Homo sapiens: one gene and its partner. The gene in region 1 interacts genetically with each later gene. Each region holds a gene or a part of one and is shown on either strand. Other genes may lie near its edges.

What was found.
Region 2: changes in DYRK2 (region 1) and NF2 together harm fitness more than expected from each alone (negative genetic interaction), as found in Homo sapiens cells (one large-scale study listed by BioGRID).

What each region holds. Positions count from the first base shown.
Region 1 is NC_000012.12:67,654,960-67,658,781, reverse strand, and holds part of DYRK2 (dual specificity tyrosine-phosphorylation-regulated kinase 2), read right to left. Parts: intron 1,677-3,822; coding exon 69-1,676; 3' UTR 1-68. UniProt on the Homo sapiens protein: Serine/threonine-protein kinase involved in the regulation of the mitotic cell cycle, cell proliferation, apoptosis, organization of the cytoskeleton and neurite outgrowth. Functions in part via its role in ubiquitin-dependent proteasomal protein degradation.
Region 2 is NC_000022.11:29,610,021-29,613,842, forward strand, and holds part of NF2 (merlin), read left to right. Parts: intron 1-3,822. UniProt on the Homo sapiens protein: Probable regulator of the Hippo/SWH (Sav/Wts/Hpo) signaling pathway, a signaling pathway that plays a pivotal role in tumor suppression by restricting proliferation and promoting apoptosis.

The DNA of each region.
Region 1 (3,822 bases):
TCCTTTTCAACCCAGTAAGGCTCAGCAATGTCGTATCTTTCAGGTTACCAGCATCAGGGGACGTGAGCTCAGCTAACAAGTTTTGGCAACACTGTCCTCTGCTGAATATTCCCATTGGCATCTGTCATCTGCGCCAAATTAGTCCTCAGTTTGGAAGCTGAGCTAGAAGGTGGAGGTAACTTGGATATAGATGTGATAGCACCGGTGCTCTCAGTTATCCTTTTCACTGACGTTTTCTCCCCGGTGGGAGGCTTTGGCAACCGCCTCCTCAGCCAGGGGTGCCGCAAAGCCTGGCCTGGGGTCATGCGCACTGCAGGATCCCACTCTAAACACTGTTTTAAGAAGTCAAGGAAAAGGGGATCATCACACCCCTTCAGCGCGTTCCCCCACTCTCTGCTCTCCGGTGGGCCCCTCAGTTTCCCCCTCCGGGAACGGCCTCCGTTTAGGACCACAGAGCCATCTGAGAGAGTCGTGACAGTGCAGTAACGGGGATAACCCTTGGAGCTCACAAAATTTTTGGCTCGTTTGGATGCATCCAGCAGTTTCTGTGAGGGCATGCCCAACAGTTCAATCATACAGGCCAGCTGGTCCCCTTCATCTTCCCCAGGCAAGAGGGGGTAACCCGTCAGGAGCTCTGCTAAAATGCAGCCCAGGCTCCACATATCAATGGGCATGCCATACCTGGCCCCAAGGATCACTTCTGGAGCCCGGTAAAAACGCGACTGGATGTACGTGTAGACACGCTGATGCTCGTAACAACTGGAGCCAAAATCAATTACTTTAATACCGCTTCTACCCTGCTGCTTTAACAAAATGTTCTCGGGCTTAAGGTCACAGTGAATTATTCTGTTTTTGTGCAAAGCATCCAAGCACTGCAGAATCGAGTGGGCAAACTTGCGAACCAAAGGCAGACTGAAGCCCTGGAATTTATTCTTCTTGATGAGCTCATAGAGGTTCATGCTCAGCAGCTCAAACGTCATGCAGATGTGGTTGCGGAAGGTGAAATTCTCCAGCATATGGATGACATTCATTGTGTTATCCTTGTCCTGCTTCCGCAGGTGTTCCAGGATTCGGATCTCCTCCGCTGCTTGCCGGTGGAAGCGCTTCTCATTCCGCACCATCTTTAGGGCCACGTGCTGGTGGACTTTGTGATCGTAGGCCTTGACCACCTGCCCAAAGCTCCCCTTCCCAATGACCTTGAGGACCTCATACCTGTAAGCCACGTGATCGTGGGGCACCTGCACATATGATCCCTGGTCATCATCATAGCCACCATTGTTGGGCCCACCTGTCATGCCCTGGCGCTTCTTAGCATTTAGACCCAAGAAATATATTTCAGGGTAGCTGAAAATCTCATGGTGTTCGAAGGCTGTGAGTTTTTGCATGTATTGCTTCATTGCTTGTTCAGGTGTCATGGGGGTGGCTTTCACCTTCCCCATGCCTTCCATGGACTTTAGAGAGGTGGAGCTCCCCTGCCGTCTATGAATGCTGTCCAGCTGCCGCTCTGGCACCACTGGCAAGCCCGTTTTGCCCACTGTTGTAAGCCCATTTGGTTGTGTCGTGAGCACTGTCCGCTTGTTACTGTTATCCTCAAACAACTGTTGAACCTGGATCTGTCCGTGAGCGTGGCTGCCGACATGCAGGTGATCATTCATTGTGTGCTTACTGCCGCCAATCTGGAATTCAGACAGGAAATATAAATAGAAAAGAAGTGGTGTCTGTTCAAATGGTGTATAAGTAACCCCCAACAACACCACCGCCCCCAACCTCACATTTACAAAATCCCATTTGGTTTGAGTAAAAGCCACAAAACATGTGATCCTGAAAAATGGACCTCATAAATGCCATGCCTAACAGACAAGATGGTTTGCTGTACATATTCAGGGTTCCCCACGGAGACAGAGACCTTAACTTTATCATTCTATATCTAACACTTAGTATAGGGCCTGGCACATCATAGGTGTTCCACTCAATCCACATTTGATACAAAAATGAAACAGGATACAGAAAAAAACATGCACACATAAGACTCTATGTTGGCTCCTCCACCCCCAGATCACAGCACCTTTCATATTTCATCTAGTAGTTTATTAACATGAAGACAGGGACCATGTCTGTCTTGTTCACTACTCTTTCCCTAATACCTAGAGCTCTATCCTGAAAACACTTCATCACCAGTATTTCCCCTTTCCTTGAAAATCTGATGAAACCTAAGTGCACACATGATCCAGTGACAAAAACAAAAACCCTGTGTTTTTAGACTTGAAAGATTCCCATGTAGATGTGTACCATAGTATCTTATGGACCCCTGACCTATTTTTAAAAGTTTCCAGGCTTTACTAACTGTAATAACCATTTAAGGCATTCAGCCCAACAAACCAAGCAACGACCACACTGTTTGGCCTTCCTCCGGAGGGGTCAGTGGCTCAGCTCTCTGAAGATGTCCATTTCTACAAGCTGCTGGGATACTCAGATTTCCAAATAGGAATCCAAAGAAGCAACCTCTGTTTCAGGTATGCATGCCATCCCTGAACATTCCTGTCTAAATTCTATCAATGGTGTGAACCAAGGGACCCCAGCCCTCTACTGAGAATCTTCTTGGGATTTCCTTTAAGCATTATGGCTGCTGAGAGGTAAGGGGTAGGAGAGGACTGGCAGCCAGGATCCTCTCCCAGTTAGGAATTCCTGCCTTGGACAACCCCTAGTCTTAAAGCAGCCTGGCAGGTGATTTCTGTATGAAATCTTACACCACCTTGTCATCACAATCCACCTCATTCAGTCAACTGGTATTAACAGGAGGCTGGCTGCCAAAGTGACAGAGTCCCTGCCCTCCAGGAACTTACAATTAACTAGATGAAGTCCACTGCCATCAGTATTTTTTCTACTATCCCCTTTTAAATCCTACCTTTGGGGCTTTACATACTACTGAAAGAGCAGAAGGGCTCTGTATATGTAACACAGTAATTCAAAACATGATTTGGGAACACCTGGATTACAAAATGAAATTCCAACTCCTTCTTACTAGCAGACCAAGACGTTCACATTTTCTTTATTGGATACATAATATGCACAATGACTATGTGGAGTGTGAGCTTCCTCTCTGCCCACTTCTAACTAAAACAAAACAGAAGACAATACTTGGGGCCTGTCTGACTGTGACTTCATAGGCTCAGGGATATCATTTCTTAGACTTATAACTGAGCTTTTTTATCACACTCATAGATGATACTCCATGCTAGGTGACCTTATATTCAATAAGAGTAGCTAGAAAGGTTATTTTACCCTTGTTCTATGCCAAAAGCAGGGCAGTCCATAAAAATGAATCAGGCAAGTCTTGGGCATATATAAAAGAGGTACAGGCTTGTCCAATGCTTCTCTTCCCCAGCCTCGCTCTCTGCACCCTCTCCTGTCCACTGTGGTCTTTCAAACACCAGACAATAAAGGGGCCTGAATCAAAATATCTCTCTCCTATAGAATCATTTTCTTTAGAGTGGAGTGGTGATATTTCAGCAGAAAAATTCACATTACCTGTATACATGCTATAAAAAGCATAAAGCTCTTCATTAGGACAAAATTAACCTTGGGGCTTTAGAGATTTCTAAAAACACAGCAAAGTAAAACCAAGCCTCAGAAATTTACTTCAAGCAATTTTTGTGTTTCGCATAATTTAATACATGATCACAAATGTTTTAGTAACTAAAACTAACGAGACTGACAAGAAACGACCATCTTCTATATCTCCAACTGCCTTCTCTTGGTCTCCTTTGCAGCATCAACTACTACCTAACCTTAGGTGGATTCAAGAGTTCCCCAGGGTTCAAA
Region 2 (3,822 bases), on another chromosome or scaffold:
TAAATAAATAATTAGAGAGAGAGAGAGAGAGAGAGACCTGGGCACAGTGGCTGTTGCCTGTAATCTCAGCACTTTGGGAGGTCAAGGCAGGAGGATCCTTTGAGGCCAGGAGCTTGAGACCAACCTGGGCAACATAGAGAGACCCCAACTCTAAAATATACATACTATATCTAAACTCAGCTAGGCGTGGTGGTGTGAGCCTGGAGTCCCAGCTACTCAGGAGGTTAAGGTGTGAGGATCACTTGATCCCAGGAGGTTGAGGAGGCAGTGAGCTATGATTGTGCCACAGTGCTTCAGCCAGGGTGACAGAGTGAGACCCTGTCTCTTAAAAAAAAGAAAAGAGGCTGGGTGCAGTGGCTCATGCCTGTAATCCCAGCACTTTGGGAAGCCAAGGTGGGCAGATCACGAGGTCAGGAGTTCAAGACCAGCCTGTCTAATATGGTGAAACCCCATCTCTACTAAAAATACAAAAATTAGCCGAGCATGGTGGAGTGCGCCTGTAGTCCCAGCTACTCGAGAGGCTGAGGCAGGAGAATCGCTTGAACCCGGGAAGTTGGAGGTTGCAGTGAGCTGAGATTGCGCCACTGCACTCCAGCCTGGGTGACAAAGTGAGACTCCATCTCAAAAAAAAAAAAAAAGAAGAAAGAAAAGCAAAGCAAAGCCCAGGCCTGTACCTACTAGAGGTCCTGATAACTTCACCACTGAATTCTATCAAACATTTCAAGAAAAATTAATACAGTTCTTCACAAAGTCTTCAAAAATGAAAAAGAGGAGAAAATACTTACAAACGAATTTTATGAGACTGGTATTACCCTGTTGCCAAAAACCAGGAAAAGACATTACAAGAAAAGAAAACCATAGACAAATATATCTTACAAATGTGGAAGCAAAAATCCTCAACAAAAATACTAGCAAACTGAATCCAGTAACATATAAAAATAATTATATACCATAAACAAGCAGGATTTATTCCAGGAGTGCAAGGTTGGTTTAACATCCAAAAATGAATTAGTGTAAATAATGTAATGCATTATATCAATAGAATAAAAAACAAAAATCACCTTGTCATCTCAGTAGACACAGAAAAAGCATTTGACAAAATTCAGCATGTTTTTCATGATAAAAACACTAAATAAACTAAGAAGAGAAGAGCAGTTCCTCAACCTGATACACAGCAGTTATGAAAAACCCACAGCTAACTTCATAATAGTGAGACTGAGGCCAGGCACAGTGGCTCACGCCTGTAATCCTAACACTTTAGGAGGCCAAGGTTGGAGGGATCACTTGAGGTCAGGAGTTCAAGAACAGCCTGGCCAACATGGTGAAACCCTGTCTCTACTACAAATACAAAAAAAAATTAGCCAGGTGTGGTGGTGCATACCTATAATTGTAGCTACTTGGGAGGCTGAGGTGGGAGGATTGCTTGAACCTGGGAGGCAGAGGTTGCAGTGAGCTGAGATAGCACTACTGCACACAATAGGCTGGGCGACAGAGCTCAAAACAAACAAACAAACAAACAAAATAGTGAAAGACTGTATGCTTATCCTTAAGATTAGGAAAAAGAGAGATAAGTCTACTTTCACTACTGCTATTCAGCATTGTACTGGAGGTTCTAGCCAGGGCAATTAGGCAAGAAAATGCAATAAAATACATCTATGTTGGAAGGGAACAAGTAAGATCATCTCTGCAGATGACATGATCTTGCATATAGACCCTGAGGAATCCACTACCAAAGTATTGGAACTAATAAATTATTAGTTTAGTAAGGTTATAGGATACAAGATCATTACACAAAACTTAGTTGTAAATGTATCCACTTGGAATGAACAATCTGAAAAGGAAATTAAGAAAATTCCATTTACAATAACCTAAAAAATAAAAATACTTATAACAAAAGAGGTATCTTTTTTTCCATCCTCTGACAGTTTAGTAAAAGAAAGTATAAAACTTATACTCTAAAAGCTGTAAAACATTTTTGGTTTTGTTTTTTAAATTAATTTTTTTTGAAACGGAGTCTCACTCTGTCGTCCAGGCTGGAATGCGGTGGCGCGATCTCGGCTCACTGCAACCTCTGCCTCCCAGGTTAAAGCGATTCTCCTGCCTCAGCCTCCGGAGTAGCTGGAGCTACAGGTGTGCACCACCATGCCTGGCTAATTTTTGTATTTTTAGTATAGAGGGGGTTTCACCATGTTGGCCAGGCTGGTCTCGAACTCCTGACCTCAGGTGATCCACCCGCCTCAGCCTCTGAAAGTCCTGGGATTACAGGCGTGAGCTAGTGCGCCCAGCCTGGCCTTTTAAAATATTTAATTAATTGATTTTTTTTTTTCTCGGACTTGCACTGAAGTGAGAACAAGTGCAGTGGTGCAATCATATCTCAGTGCAGCCTAGACCTTCCAGGCTTAAGTGATCCTCCTATATCAGCCTCCCAAGCAGCTCAGACCACAGGCATGCGCGATCATCCCTAGCTTTTTTTTTTTGTTTGTTTGTTTTTTAATTTCTTGTAGAGACAGAGTCTCCCTGTGTTACCCAGGCTGGTCTTGAACCTGACCTCAAGCAACCTCCCATGTTGGCCCCTCAAAGTGCTGGGATTACAGGTGTGAGCCACCGTGCCTGGCCTGTAAAACATTTTTAAAAGAAAGAAGATATAAATAAATAAATAAATAGAAAATAGCTCTTGTTCATGGATCATAAGACATAACGTTGTCAAATTGGCAGTATTTTGGAAATTGATCTACACGTTTGACATAATCCCTGTCAGAATCCCAGTTTATTTCATTGTAGAAATTGACAAGTCTCCAGGCGTAGTGGCTCATGCCTGTAATCCCAGCACTTTGGGAGGCCGAGGCAGGCGGATCACCTGAGGTCAGGAGTTCAAGACCAGCCTGGCCAACATGGAGAAACCCTGTCTCTACTAAAACTACAAAATTAGCCGGGTGTGGTGGCACATACCTGTAATCCCAGGTACTCGGGAGGCTGAGGCAGGGAATCGCTTGAACCTGGGAGGCGGAGCTTGCGGTGAGCTGAGATCACGCGCCACTGCACTCCAGCTTGGGCAACAAGAGCGAAACTCCATCTCAAAAAAAAAAAAGAAATTGACAAGTCAATTCATAAATTCCTATGGAATCGCAAGGGACCCACAATAGCTAAATCTTGAAAAAGAACAAAGCAGAAAGACTCACGCTTTGTGATTTCAAGACATACTATAAAACAACTAATCAAGACAACGTCACCAGGCACCGTGGCTTATGCCTATAATCCCAACACTTTGGGAGGCCAAGGCAGGCAGATCACTTGAGGACAGGAGTTCGAGACCAGCCTGGGCAACATGGCGAAATCTTGTCTCTACCAAAAATACAAAAATTAACCGGGCGTGGGGGTGCACACTTGTAGTCCAAGCTGCTTGGGAGGGCTGAGGCACAAGAATCCCTTGAACCCAGGAGGTGGAGGTTGCAGTGAGTCGAGATCGTGCTATTGCACTCCAGCCTGGGGGACAGAGCGAGATTCCATTTCAAAAAAATAAAAATAAAAAGACAGTGTGGTACTGGTATAAGGATAAATGTGTAGATCAGTGGCATAGAATTGAGAGTCCAGAAATAAACCCAGTGGAATAGAGTTGAGAGTTCATGGTCACCTGATTCTTGACAAGGGTGCAAAGACCATTCAGTGGGGGAGAACTGTCTTGTCTTGTCTTTTCTTGCTACATGCCACAGACTGTGAGAAGGAATAGTCCTTTCTTTTCTTTTTTCTTTTTTTTTTTGAGATGGAGTCTCGCTCTGTCATCTAGGCTGGAGTGCAGTGGTGCAATCTTGGCTCACTGCAACC